Regions from separate parts of the Homo sapiens genome. Here regions 2 and 3 are each reported to be linked to region 1. Evidence: microRNA targets listed by miRTarBase, many of them from high-throughput screens and not tested one by one. Region 1 holds a microRNA gene; each other region holds the end of a gene's coding sequence.
Evidence for each region. The annotated mature microRNA hsa-miR-188-3p reads CUCCCACAUGCAGGGUUUGCA and lies in region 1 at 2,385-2,405, opposite strand. An mRNA with a match to its seed (bases 2 to 7 or 8) in the 3' UTR can be bound and repressed. Matches are read on the target gene's strand: a 7mer-m8 pairs with bases 2 to 8, a 7mer-A1 pairs with bases 2 to 7 and ends in A, and an 8mer does both.

Region 1 (4,151 bases):
CAAGAAAACACAAAAACAAAACATTTTTCTGTTCTGATCATTGTAGAAGCCTAAATACAATGACCAATCCAGAGGCAAATATGGTCTTTAAATATCATGTCTGATTAAAAGAAACCAGGGCTTCTTGAAGACATGGCAGATTCCAGGCCTGGGGAAGGTATCTGCGATGAGCTTTGTACATTTTTTTCATCTCTGAAAGCGGAGAAGCTATCAGATAACTACGGAGGCATGTCAAAAGGACTGAGGAACCAATTTGAAGAAGCTCCTACTGGCTAAAGATGGGGCACTGGAGCTTCACTGAAGGCAAGAACTGCAATGGATTAAAAGTCCAAATATATTTAAATCTATGAGTTTATTATAATAGTTTTTTTAAAAAATCCTCTTTAGAGTAAGCTAGTGAACCAACTCATTATTCTGAGTACTGATAAATAAAGAGAACCAAACATTTATCCTATCTTGCCTATAAAGACGGCAACACTGGGTGATCAAATAGCAGATGAAGGGAAGTTTTTCTTTATAGAAGTATTCCAGCTAATAAATCAAGAGAATAATGGGATTAGAATATCATCATTTTGCAACCCCTAATGAAATAACGGCTCTAAGAATTGAGCATCGGTGGCAACTAACATCACAGAAAGATGATCATCAGTTATTTTGTGCCTCTTAATGGAAGTAGTTCTGCTCCCCCTTCCTCAAAATTAAGCCTGAATTTGATCAGGCTTCCAGATGCAACTATCAGTTTACAGGAAATACAAACAAGGAGAAGGAACATGTAAACTACATCACAGGGATGTGATCACAAAAATCCAGACTATGCAAAACTGTATAGGATGAATGGCCCACTTTCTTCCAACAAATAAATTATAAGGAAAGAAAAAATATAGATGGAAGGGAAAGATATAATTCAAAGGGACTTAAGATACATATCAACCAAATGCAATGCATGGACCTTATCTGGATCCTAATTTATGATATTTCTGAGACAAGTGGAAATGGGAACAACAGATATGTGATGATATTAAAAAATTGTTGGCAATTTTTTTTCTTTTTGAGATGAAGCCTCGCTCTTGTCACCCAGGCTGGAGCGCAGTGGCACGATCTTGGCTCACTGCAACCTCCGCCTCCCGGGTTCAAGCGATTCTCCTGCCTCAGCCTCCCGAGTAGCTGGGATTACAGGCACCTGCCACCAGGCCTGACTAATTTTTGTATTTTTAGTAGAGACGGGGTTTCACCATGTTGGCCAGGCTGGTCTTGAATTCCTAACCTCAGGTGATCTGCCTACCTTAGCCTCCCACAAAGTGCTGAGATTACAGGCATGAGCCCCTGTGCCTGGATGGTAATTATTTTTAAGTGTGATAATGGTATGATTTTTTTTTTAAAAGCGGCCTTAGATTTTAGAGATACATAGTAATTATCAGCTTTCCCTTTTTCCATTGTAACTTACTACTTCCCAGCCCTATGCTTCTGCCACAATGGCTCTTTGTTGTTCCTAGAACACAGTAGGCCTTTCCTGACTACCCTATTTGATATCGAAACTTCTCCACCACCATCTATGCTGTAACTACCCCCACCCACTCCTTGTCCCCTTTTCCTGCCTTATTATTCTCCAGAGCACTTATCAACAATTGGCACACTATCTATTACTTACTTATTTTGTTCACTACCTGCCTCCCCTCACTAGGGCAGGGATTCTTGTCTTTTGGTCACTGGTGTATCCCTGGTGCATAGGGGAGTACCCAACACACAGTAGCTGCTCGATAAATATTTGCTGAATGAATGAGTGGCTCACCAAATGAATCGGCTGCAAATCCTGGGTCTGGGGAGATAACAGAGAAAACTCACAATCTGACTCATATCTACATGAGTGTCTAAGAAGACAGATCTTCACACACCCTCTTGAGCAAACAAGTGTGCATATGGAAAGGCATGGCACAGTGAGTGGATTCTACTTTCTGAACCCAAAATGTGTGTGCATATTACATCTTTGCATATGGTTATGATATAGACACAATTTTCCTCACAAACTGGGTTTGTGAGAATTAGCTAGAAGACTCCCTTTTCATCATGCCCCATGTACAGGAGTCCTGAGAAGGTTCTCTCTCCTCCTCTAGGTGCCGCTAAGACAGAACCAGGTCAAAAGACCCCCCTTCCTTCTCTAGGCTGTGCCTATCCCTGAGTATGAGGGGCTGCACCATGTGCAAGAGAAAGCTAAGAGAAGTCTCCCTCTCCTGCAGGATCCATGTAAGACTGAGATGGGAGAAAGGACATGGCTGAGAGTCATTCTCCTTCCCACCACATGGGTGTGTGTTTTTCTTTTGGTGAAGGAGTGCGTATGTGTATATACACATGCACAAGAGAGCAAGGAAAGCTGAGGCTCGCCATCCTGCAAACCCTGCATGTGGGAGGGGTTTTCAGAAAGCTCACCCTCCACCATGCAAGGGATGTGAGAGAGGGAGCAGGGAAGGGCTTGCTCTCTTGGCACGACATATGGGTATGCTCTAGGAGGCAAGAGGCACTGGCCTGGGGGGTGCAAGTGGGCAGCAAGATAGCCACAGGAGTGCTGATGGGTAAACTAGGAGCAGTGGCCATGGAAGCAGGACAGTCATCCAGATGGGATGGCTGCTAACAGTGTACCCCACATACAGAGCACGTAAGAGAGGGTCTACCTCCCTTTGGTGTACCTGTCCATGTGCTCATGCCTATGCACTGGAGAGGGAAGAGAAGGCTCGCTCTTCTGCAAGCCTTGGGTGTGGGAGGGTAATTAAGATGCCAACGGTCCTACACTCAAGGCATGGAGGAGAGAAAGCAAGTCGGGAGGTCTGCTCTCCTGTATACTGTGTGCATGCGTATCCCAGATGCCTTGGACTTCTATGACTGTGCCCCAGACATGCTGTAATGAGAAGGTGTGCTTGTGTACATTCACATATGTACCTTCAGAAATGTTCACTATCTACAACATATTTGTTTTCCTTCCTTCTTTCTTTTCCTTTATTTTTATTCCTAACACCAGTATAGTATTTACATTTGCAGAGCACTGTTTTAAGTGCTTTTCACACATAGCTCATTTATTCTCATAAAATATCCATGAGGTGATCATTATCCCTATTTTACAGATGAAATAACACACATACGAGAACAGATGGTAAGAAAGCTTAGAATCTGGCATGCAGGTCATTAGAAAGAGGACTCAAAAAAGGAGGCTCAAGCTCTCAGCCACCAACCACTTTGTGTCCACACACACACCACACACACACACACACACACACACACACACACACAGAGAGAGAGAGAGAGAGACAGAGACAGAGACAGAGACAGAGAGACAGACAGACAGACAGACGCAAGAGAACTTGCACTTGTCAGCCCAGGGAAAAGCTGGATTAGTGTGGAAATAATAGAGGAAGTGAGAAGTATGAGAAGTGGCTGTGTGGTCAGATTAGACATGTATTTTGAAAGTAGAGCCAACAAGATTTGACAGCAGTTTGTATTTGGAGAATGGAGGGGAAAAAGTGTCAAAGATGAATCCAAAACCTTTAGCTTATTAAAATTCTCCATATCCTTGGCATATGCAATTGGGAAATGCTGTTTGCTGAGTTGGAGAACACAGAGGGAGGAGTAGGGCTTTTTGAGAGGGGGAGGAAAACCAGGACCTCAGCTTTGGATGTGTTAAAGTTTTGAGATACTTATTAGACATTCGGGGCAGATGTCCAGTACATAGTTGGACATAGGCATCTGGAATTCAGGAGAGAAGTCCAGGCTGGAAATACAAACACAGAAATCATCCACATAAAATGGTACTTAGAGTTGCAAGACAAGATGAGAACAGCTGAGGACTAATGAGAAGTTAAAAAAAAAAAAAGAAGTCTGAAGACTAAGCCCTATATCTCTTTAATACTTAGAATTCAGGAAGAGGAGGAGAAACCATCAAGAGACTGAGAAAGAGAGGCTTGTGAGGTAAGAAGACAACCTCATGAGTGTGGAATCCTGGAAAGCAGGTAGAGTCTCAAGGCAGAGGGAGTGATCAACTGTGTGTTGATCTGTCAAGTAAGATGACAACATTGCCCAGTAAATTGGGAAATGTGAAGGACACTGGGGACCTTGACCAGGGTCATTTAAGTGCTGCAGGTTACAGTTTTACATGGAGGGTTTTC
Region 2 (4,000 bases), not on the chromosome of region 1:
AGAATACTGGAGGAACTCTAGACCTGCATTGTCCAATTGGCAGCCACTAGCCACATGTGACTATCCAAATTGAGAGGTGCTGTGAGTGTAAAAGACACAATGGATTTAGAAGACTTAGTACACAAAAGCATGTAAAACATGTCATTAATTTACATTAGTGACATGTTGAAACAATATTAGGTTAAAGTACATGATTAAAATTATCTTTACCTGTTTCTTTTTACACTTTAAAATGTGGCTAGTAGAAAATTTAAAATTATGTCTGTGACTTGCATTACGTTTCTGTTGGACAGTGCTAGTCTAGACTCTTGCTATAGAAAAATGCACATCTGCAAATACACATACAGTCTGCATTTGCTTCTAGAGGGTACACACACCCTCTGACACTCATCTGTAGACTACCAGGTCTCCAGGTCAGTCTCTTCTTTGGGGGAGGTAAAGAAGGCTATAAGGAAGGGCTGTTCCCCTTTCTTCTGAAAGAGAAACTTTCTGGTTAAGCTTTTTTTTTTTCTTTTTTTTTTTTTTTTTAAACTATCAAAGCTACAGGAAAATCCTCCAGAAACAAACTTTGGTAAGTAGTGAATGGCAAAGGCTCAGGGGGTTTGCAGCAGGACCTCCTTGGGGTCAGATCTGCCAGCCTCGGGTTGGCCTTTCAGACCCCTCATCGTCTATGAGGCATCCTGTAAGTGCAGCTGTGGCCAGGGCTTGCATATGCAATCAATTCCTGATTCACCTAGTTCTTGGCAGGAAGAGAAAATACTCGTTAATCAGAGGACTAAACAATCCAAAGCGCATTCTCTCTCTGGGAATGGAATATAATTTATATTTCTGTTGCTATTGAATTATCCTTCTAATTCCACTGGACTAAACTTAATACCAGTAATACTAAAATTTGTTTTGGGCAAAGCCGACTGAAGGAGGAGTCAGTGGCGCAAGCCTATGCTGACTGTGAAAAATAAACACCTCTGAGATCAAGAATCCCACAGTGAGAGCTAGGATTTGAAGGTATCCAGAGATTGCAAACTCTGTGACTAACAGCAATTTTTAAACAAGGCAAAACAAACCAACTCCTACTTGGACTTAAAACTTCAATCATTTAGATTTTCATTCTCAGCACCATAGTTGTGCCAAGTCTCAAAGGCTGTTATTACATGATACATGTCAAGTAACTCTACCTCCCCAAGCTACGAAGCCTGATTGCCACAAGTCATAGCTATCTGCAAAAATGGATCCTGCCTCTGAAAGACTCATCTGTGGTCCCACAGCCAGAGGAGCTTGGGGACTCATGTTATTAAACCCTTCACATTATAGATGAAGAAGCCGAGGCTTAGTAAAGCGTGTGGTTCATCTAGGATTCTCGATTCAGAGCTCTCTTCATTCCTCCCTGCCTCTTTTCCCACACATAGAGAGTGGATTTCATTACAGGAAGCATTGGACTCCTAGGGAGATGCAACCTTTCTGAGGGTAATAATCATCTGCCTTGCCTTACTGTCTACTTACAAACCATCAAATAGGAAATTGGTAAAGGTGGTGAAAAAGGAGCAGCTAGTATTCTCCGTTGACCTGCACACCATGTTTCAGCAGGCGGCAAGGATTTACAGCAGAACCAAACTCTTTTTGAATGAGTATTAGTCTAATGAGGTGGAAAAGTCCCCATCAATACATAAAAACAACTCAGTGAGAAAAGCTTTCTTTCCTGGTTAATCCAAGCCGCAGCCTGGTGTTTGCCAGCTGTGTAGAGATAAGGTGATCCGTCTGATTGTTCAGAGACGCTATCAATGACCTTAGTCATCTCTGTATCTGGATAGTCTGAATATATTACAAAATTGCCCACTGAAAAAATAGCACATTTCTGTCATAGTTACAAAAGATGAATAAAAACAGAAACAGTTTAAAAACACCATTGGGTTTCAGTATTTACTTGATACCTCTTTTCCTTTCCCTCTTACTTTGTCTATTTCAGTCAGGATAAACGATCTAGCAAATTCTCATGCTGCATACTTTTTGGTTCAAATGATACAGCAAATCACACCTCATTCCTCACTTGGTATCTGGACACACTCAGGGAGCCCTGGGAAGCAATCTGCTAGGGATTCACCTAAATCCTCCCACATGGTCTGGTGAGATTCAACAGAAGTGTGTCGAAATTAAGGTAAAAGCTAGGTGCTACTGCAGCCCCCACTATGTTTGCCATTGGACTTAAAAATGATTGGCTTTTCTCTAAAGCCTCCATTTTTTACAGAACCCACTTACAGAGGTAAGAAAAAAACTGTTCTAGCCCAGGGGAAACCAATGCAACTGGCATTTTGTTTTCAATAGGAAGAAAATGTGGTATCTGGTTTTAAAACCAGCCCTACAACCACCAAAGACTGGATGCCTTGGAGGGGACTTCTGAGTTCAGAATTTCAGCCAAAGACTGTAAGACCCAGAAGAATGAAACGGCTTCCCTAGAGCTCCCTTCTCATGTCACGTGGGCCCTTAATCAAGCCCGGCAAGTGGAAGCAAGTGTGATGTGGCTTAAAATAACCAGCAGTGGCCTCAGCAGATTTAGGGCTTAGTGTTGGGGTCTCTGGCAGCTGGGGTTTTTAAAGGCCCACTTAGAAGAACTTAGATTCTTAATGAAAGCTGGCCTTAGTCCATTTCAGGGTGCTGAGGCACTTCTCAAAGCCATGCACACTTCATGCTGGGAGGTCAAGACCACATATCTCAGAGATGGAATACAAACTGATCATAGCAGGAACTGGTGCTTCTAAACAGAAACCTATACAAAAGCTGGAGTGCATCAAAGGAAAAACAAAGGAATAGATGGAAAGTAAACTACAAATAATCTTTAAAAAAATTGCCAAAGAAATCAAACAACATGCCAAAAACAAGAATGATGAGACATGGAAAGAATTGAAATGAAACTAAGAAATCCTAAAGGTGGCCTTTCAGTCTCTGTTTTAGGAGCTTCTGAAGTGTATGTCTACATGGACATAGGAGTGGAAATCAGCTTTCAACTTCCCAGCTGCCAAGGCCACAGACTGCCATACCGATGGAGAAACTGCATCCTGATTGACAAGACTTTGGATATTGCTTTTCGTCAGCATTCTTGAACGGAGCGCCCTGGAGTTGCCAAGGTGATCTGGAGGTGTGTGTGTGCCTGGTCCAAGTCTTGGAGCACTCTTCCCTTCCTTTCCCTTGGGTCCTACTATCTCTTTGCTTCTGGATTTGTCGTTTCAAGATTTCACTTCTTCACAGTCCTGGTCAGTGGAAAGTTCTACATCAGACAGTCCAACCTCCATTGCCATGATCAAGGAAATGTCAGAATCACTGCTTACAGCTGGCTCCTGCTCACCTGGGAGGAGAAAGCAAAGTTCACAGTGAACACCGAGCTATGTCTTTGCATGCTGCTTATTTCAGTACAATTGCTTGTAATAACATTTCTTTAAAGGCCAAGAGAAGGTATTAGAAAAATTGGGTATTCTGTAAAAACTCTAGTTAAAGCCTCATCTCACATGGGCCAAAAAGTTAAATGCAAACAAAAGAAACTAGAATAATAAAATATATCATCTAAGGATATGTCTTAGTAGGAAAATATATATCTACCGTAAGTTGGGCAAGAAATTCTATTTAGAAAAGTAATTGGGTAATTTACAGAAGAAAAGATTGTTACATATGCGTAACATTTAAAATGTTACACACATGTAAAATAAAATCAAAAGGCATATCAAACTCAGGAATTTGCAAAAAATTTCACAAAGGTTTCTATTCTTAACATATAGAAAGCTTTTAAATCAATAAGAAAAACAGTTCAATAGAAAAATGGACAAAGGTTACCATTACACAATTCACGGAAGAGTGTAATATAAATGACCAATAAATATAAGGTAAAAATAAGATATCCTTTTTTGTCTATGTAATCTTCACTCTTTAAAAAAGACAAGATAATATTACAGTTAAGGGTACACTGAGGTAGGTAGGTACATGATACATTGCATATAGAACTGTAAAATTTTCA
Region 3 (4,000 bases), not on the chromosome of region 1:
GAAATTTCATCCCCCACAAGCAAGAGGAAGCAAAAAAGGAAATGGCCCCTGTGCACCTAATTCTGACCAACTGATACCTGGTGGCTGACGTGGACATGACTGGGAGCCTGGAGGTTACTGAGGCTCTCGTGTGCTCTGAGACTCCAGTTTCTGAGGTGCTCACACTGCTCAGACATTCAGGAGGTGGGGAGGGGCCCCACTTCTACAGATGAGAAAATAAGATCAGGCAGGCAGTGTGTGCCCCAGGAGATATCACGTAAGCGGCAGAGCCAATATGATCAGGAGAGCCAGAGCAACCAAGGTCAGGACATTCCAGTGACAACGGGCCCCTGGTGAGGGCAGGTGGCCTATTTCAAGGGTAAACAGGAGCCTGGTCCGGCTGGAGCCATGTGTGACGGGACTGAGAAGACTCCGGGTATAAAGGCAGAGTGCAGTGACAATGTGCCCTGAGAGCTGCCCTGGAGAAATGCACTGCAGCGGGTTGGAAATGGGGTCTCTCCAGGTGATGGGAACATGAACGATGGTGCATGTGGAATGGATGCAAAAGTGGGAGAAACTGGAGAACGGGGGCCTTCCCAGAGAGCTGCTGCTTTGAGCCTGGACACAGTAATGAGAAGGAGAGTGACGGGGTGAGTGGAAGGCAAGGGCAGGAGAGGGGCTTCAGGGAAGAATTAATGAACTCGTGGACTAGCGCTTCCTGCCAACAGAATAACTGCCCCATCCCTGAGCCAAAACCCCGAACTTACATGGACCTAAGGGCAGTATCAAAAGTGAGATTTCTAGGATACATGTACAACAAAAGAAAAAATAAATAAAAATTGGACATCATCAAAATTAAAAGCTTTAGTATTTCAAAGGACATCATCAAGGAAATGAAACAGCTCACGGAGAAAAATTTTATAATCATATACCAGTTAAAGGGACTTGTGCCAGGCTATAAAAGGACTCTTACAACTCAATAATAAAAAGACAAATAACCCAATTAAAAAATGAGCAAGTGATCTAAAGATAGCTGTCCTAAGAAGATATGCAAATGGCCAATAAGCTCATGAAAAGATGCTCAATATCATTCGCCATCAGGGAAATGCAAACCAAAATCACAATGAGATGCCACATTACCCCTACTAGGATGGCTAAGTTAAAAGATAGATAATAAAAAGCACTGAGGGATGTGGAGTCATCAGAACCCTCATGCCCTGTTGATGGGATATAAAATTGTGTCACCACATTGGAAAACAGTTTGGGAGTCCCTCAAGGGTTAAATAGAGTTTCATATGATCCAGCAAATCTGCTCCCAGGCATATACCAAAGAGAAATGAAAACATATGTCCACACAAAAACTCATACACAAAAGTTCCTAGCAGCATTATGTATAATAGTCAAGAAGTAGAAACGATCCAAATGTCCACCAATCGATGCATGATAAATAAAATGTAGTACTACCATTCCATACAATGGAATATTACCCGATGAAAAAATAAAGTTGAACACATGCTACAACATGGATGAACTTTGCTTATAAGAACATTGAAAAGAAAATGCCAAAAGAAAAATGAGTTTTAGCTCAAATTTTTTTTTAAGAGGCCTAGCCTGCTCAAGTTATCCTGTTAAAAAAAAAAAAAAAAAAAAAACTCTTCCCATATCTAAGGTGAAAATAAAAAACATTTTTAAAAGTTTAATATAAAGAATGAAATAATTTCAGGTCAAGTTTATTATACAGAAATTATATTAATGGGTGGGATAAATACTTTACAGGAGAGGGTCACACTCTCAGACACTTTGGCTCCCAAAGGGCTTGGAGCTTTTGTGAGGCTGAGCATCTTCCAACCAGGTGCATGCACTGGTTTGCCAACATCCTCACCACGCCCAATCCAGCCCCTTCACACACTGACATCGCCTACCTGGGCCCTCCTTGTGGCCTTAAGTTTTATCTAACCAGTGTACACAACATATTTATAACCAATTAATACGTGTGAGTCATGATTTGTTTAAAATGTCAGCTTTTGTGAACTGAAGGGGATGGGCAGAAGGCAGGATGCTGTCCTTGGTCAGGAATGTGACCCAGATTTTAACACTGCTCCTAGGAAAAAAAAATATTTCCTTTTATGATGCCACTTCCTGGGACATGATGAGCTGAAGATTAAAAACTCTTCAGAGATGTGCGAGAAAAAACAAGCCCAGGGAAAAGTCTGCAGGCATGGTGGAGGAAGAAATTAGGGATGAAATCGCAAGTGGCAGAGCAAGCATGACCAGGCTGAAGTCAGCAGAGACAAGAGGGCAGCGAGGCCCAGCCTCCTCTTCCCTCTCCCACAGCGTTTAGGGCCACGTCCATGGCGCCACCCCTCTCCTTTCTTCCCAACTGAAAAGGGTGCCCTCTTTCCTTCTTTTCTGCAGACGCTGATGAGAATTAACCAGAGGAACTTCCTCCACAGCAACTATAACAGGACATCCTCATCCAGTCCTCCTATCTCATTTCCTGGTGGGGAAACAGGCCTGGCAAGGAAATAGGCCGAAATCACGATTTAAAAAATGTTGTGTTTAAGTACTCTGGAACCCTGTGTTCAGAGGAAATCGTGCAAGAATAGATCAATCAGAGCTGATCTGATGGAGACGGAGGATCCAGCCACACAGAGGCCCTGCATTAACTGTATTTCCTGTACTCTTGATGCTCTGGTATCTGGGGCCTCGCTGACCTGGACAGACTGATCCTCCCAGGCTAGCCAATCCCCCAATCCCTAGAGATGGCAAGCATCTGGCTGAAAGCATGCCTTTCCTATGGAAACCAACTAATCCGGAGCGATGGCGCCAGCTGCCTCCTTCACATGGCTCTCCCAGGGCTGTCACACCCCAGGCCAACATTCACCTGTCCTGACTATCCCGGGGCCAGGTATCAGACAAAAAGGGCAGCCCCTATCCTGAGAGCCACTGAAATTACTCAAGCCAGCTACCCTTAAACCTGTCTCCCCTGCTTACTCTGCCTTGCCCATTTCCTCCTGAGGAAACCAGAGGAAGTCTCTTGCCCACACGTTCCCCTCCCTCCTTCCGCCTTCTGACCCACCGTGGGGCTTTCCTATGTGGCCCCTCCTCTCAGAACCGTAAGTAACAAACTCTCCTTTCCATGGCAGTCCCCTCCTCATCCAATGGCTTTACCACACCTCGATGAGATGGTTTACAACAGGCCCATTCTAGAAGTAAACATTATTCCCAGAAATCCTGGAATAGGGATTCAGAAAATTCACATTGTGGAGGTGCCACGACTCGGGAGAGCCTGGCCAGCGAGGTGCCACCCGAATAGCTCCTGACCATGGGCACAGAAGGGACCAAACATGGAGAGAGGCACAGCCTGGAGTCATGGAAAAGGACCAGGCAGGACAGGAGGAAGAGCCTGGCAAGGAGGCAGGGGCGCAATAGTGCCCAAGCAGTGTGGGCATTAGGAAGAGGGCAGAAAGAAAACAGTGCTGTGGCACAAGACCGGGGCAGCCCCGGGCCAGCTCAGCCATCCAGTTCTTCCTTGACACTGATGTGCAAGGGGCAGATGCGCAAAGGCTCTGGAGGCCCGGCGCCCCGTGCACCCCCCAGGTAGAAGTAGGGGCGAACCTCCCCAAAGCGGGCGTGGAAGGTGTACAGGTGGCAGTGGCGCTCCGCGTCATAGAAAGACAGCTCGCCCTCCTCACACTCCAGCTCCACACGCAGGCGGCGTGGGATGGCCAGGACCAGGGGCGACGTGGCTGGGTCCGAGGTCACGCAGTGGTCCCCCTCCACGCCCTGCGTGCGGCAGACATACCAGAAGCCCGAGCGTGTGTCGTGGTAGCAGCTGTGTGAGTGGCCCTCAGCGCCCGAGTCCTGGCGCACACGTACCACGCCCACCCTCCAGCTCTGCAGCCCCCCAAGGGCCACCTCCCAGGCGTGCGAGCCCTGTGAGAAGACACGGGAGCCCAGCAGGCAGGGCGCCGAGGAGAAGCGTTCCGGGTTCTCCACCTGCACGCGGTAGCCATGGTTG

Region 2: miRTarBase lists RNF150 as a target of hsa-miR-188-3p. Seed matches in the 3' UTR shown: 7mer-m8 at 2,107-2,113, 8mer at 1,394-1,401, 7mer-m8 at 1,258-1,264 and 7mer-m8 at 979-985.
Region 3: miRTarBase lists TRIM35 as a target of hsa-miR-188-3p. Seed matches in the 3' UTR shown: 7mer-m8 at 2,306-2,312.

The regions. Positions count from the first base shown.
Region 1 is chrX:50,001,810-50,005,960 of GRCh38, reverse strand. It overlaps MIR188 (microRNA 188), which reads right to left and starts at 2,458; the gene lies at 2,373-2,458. The region is part of intron 3 of CLCN5 (chloride voltage-gated channel 5); the gene reads right to left. MIR532 (microRNA 532) reads right to left here and starts at 2,813; the gene lies at 2,723-2,813.
Region 2 is chr4:140,865,043-140,869,042 of GRCh38, forward strand. It overlaps RNF150 (ring finger protein 150), which reads right to left. Exons shown (of 7, transcript NM_020724.2): 7 at 1-3,337. The coding sequence ends at 3,219. Among named protein-coding and RNA genes, the nearest start is that of TBC1D9, 110 kb to the left of the region's middle.
Region 3 is chr8:27,284,058-27,288,057 of GRCh38, forward strand. It overlaps TRIM35 (tripartite motif containing 35), which reads right to left. Exons shown (of 6, transcript NM_171982.5): 6 at 829-4,000. The coding sequence ends at 3,493. Among named protein-coding and RNA genes, the nearest start is that of TRIM35, 25 kb to the right of the region's middle.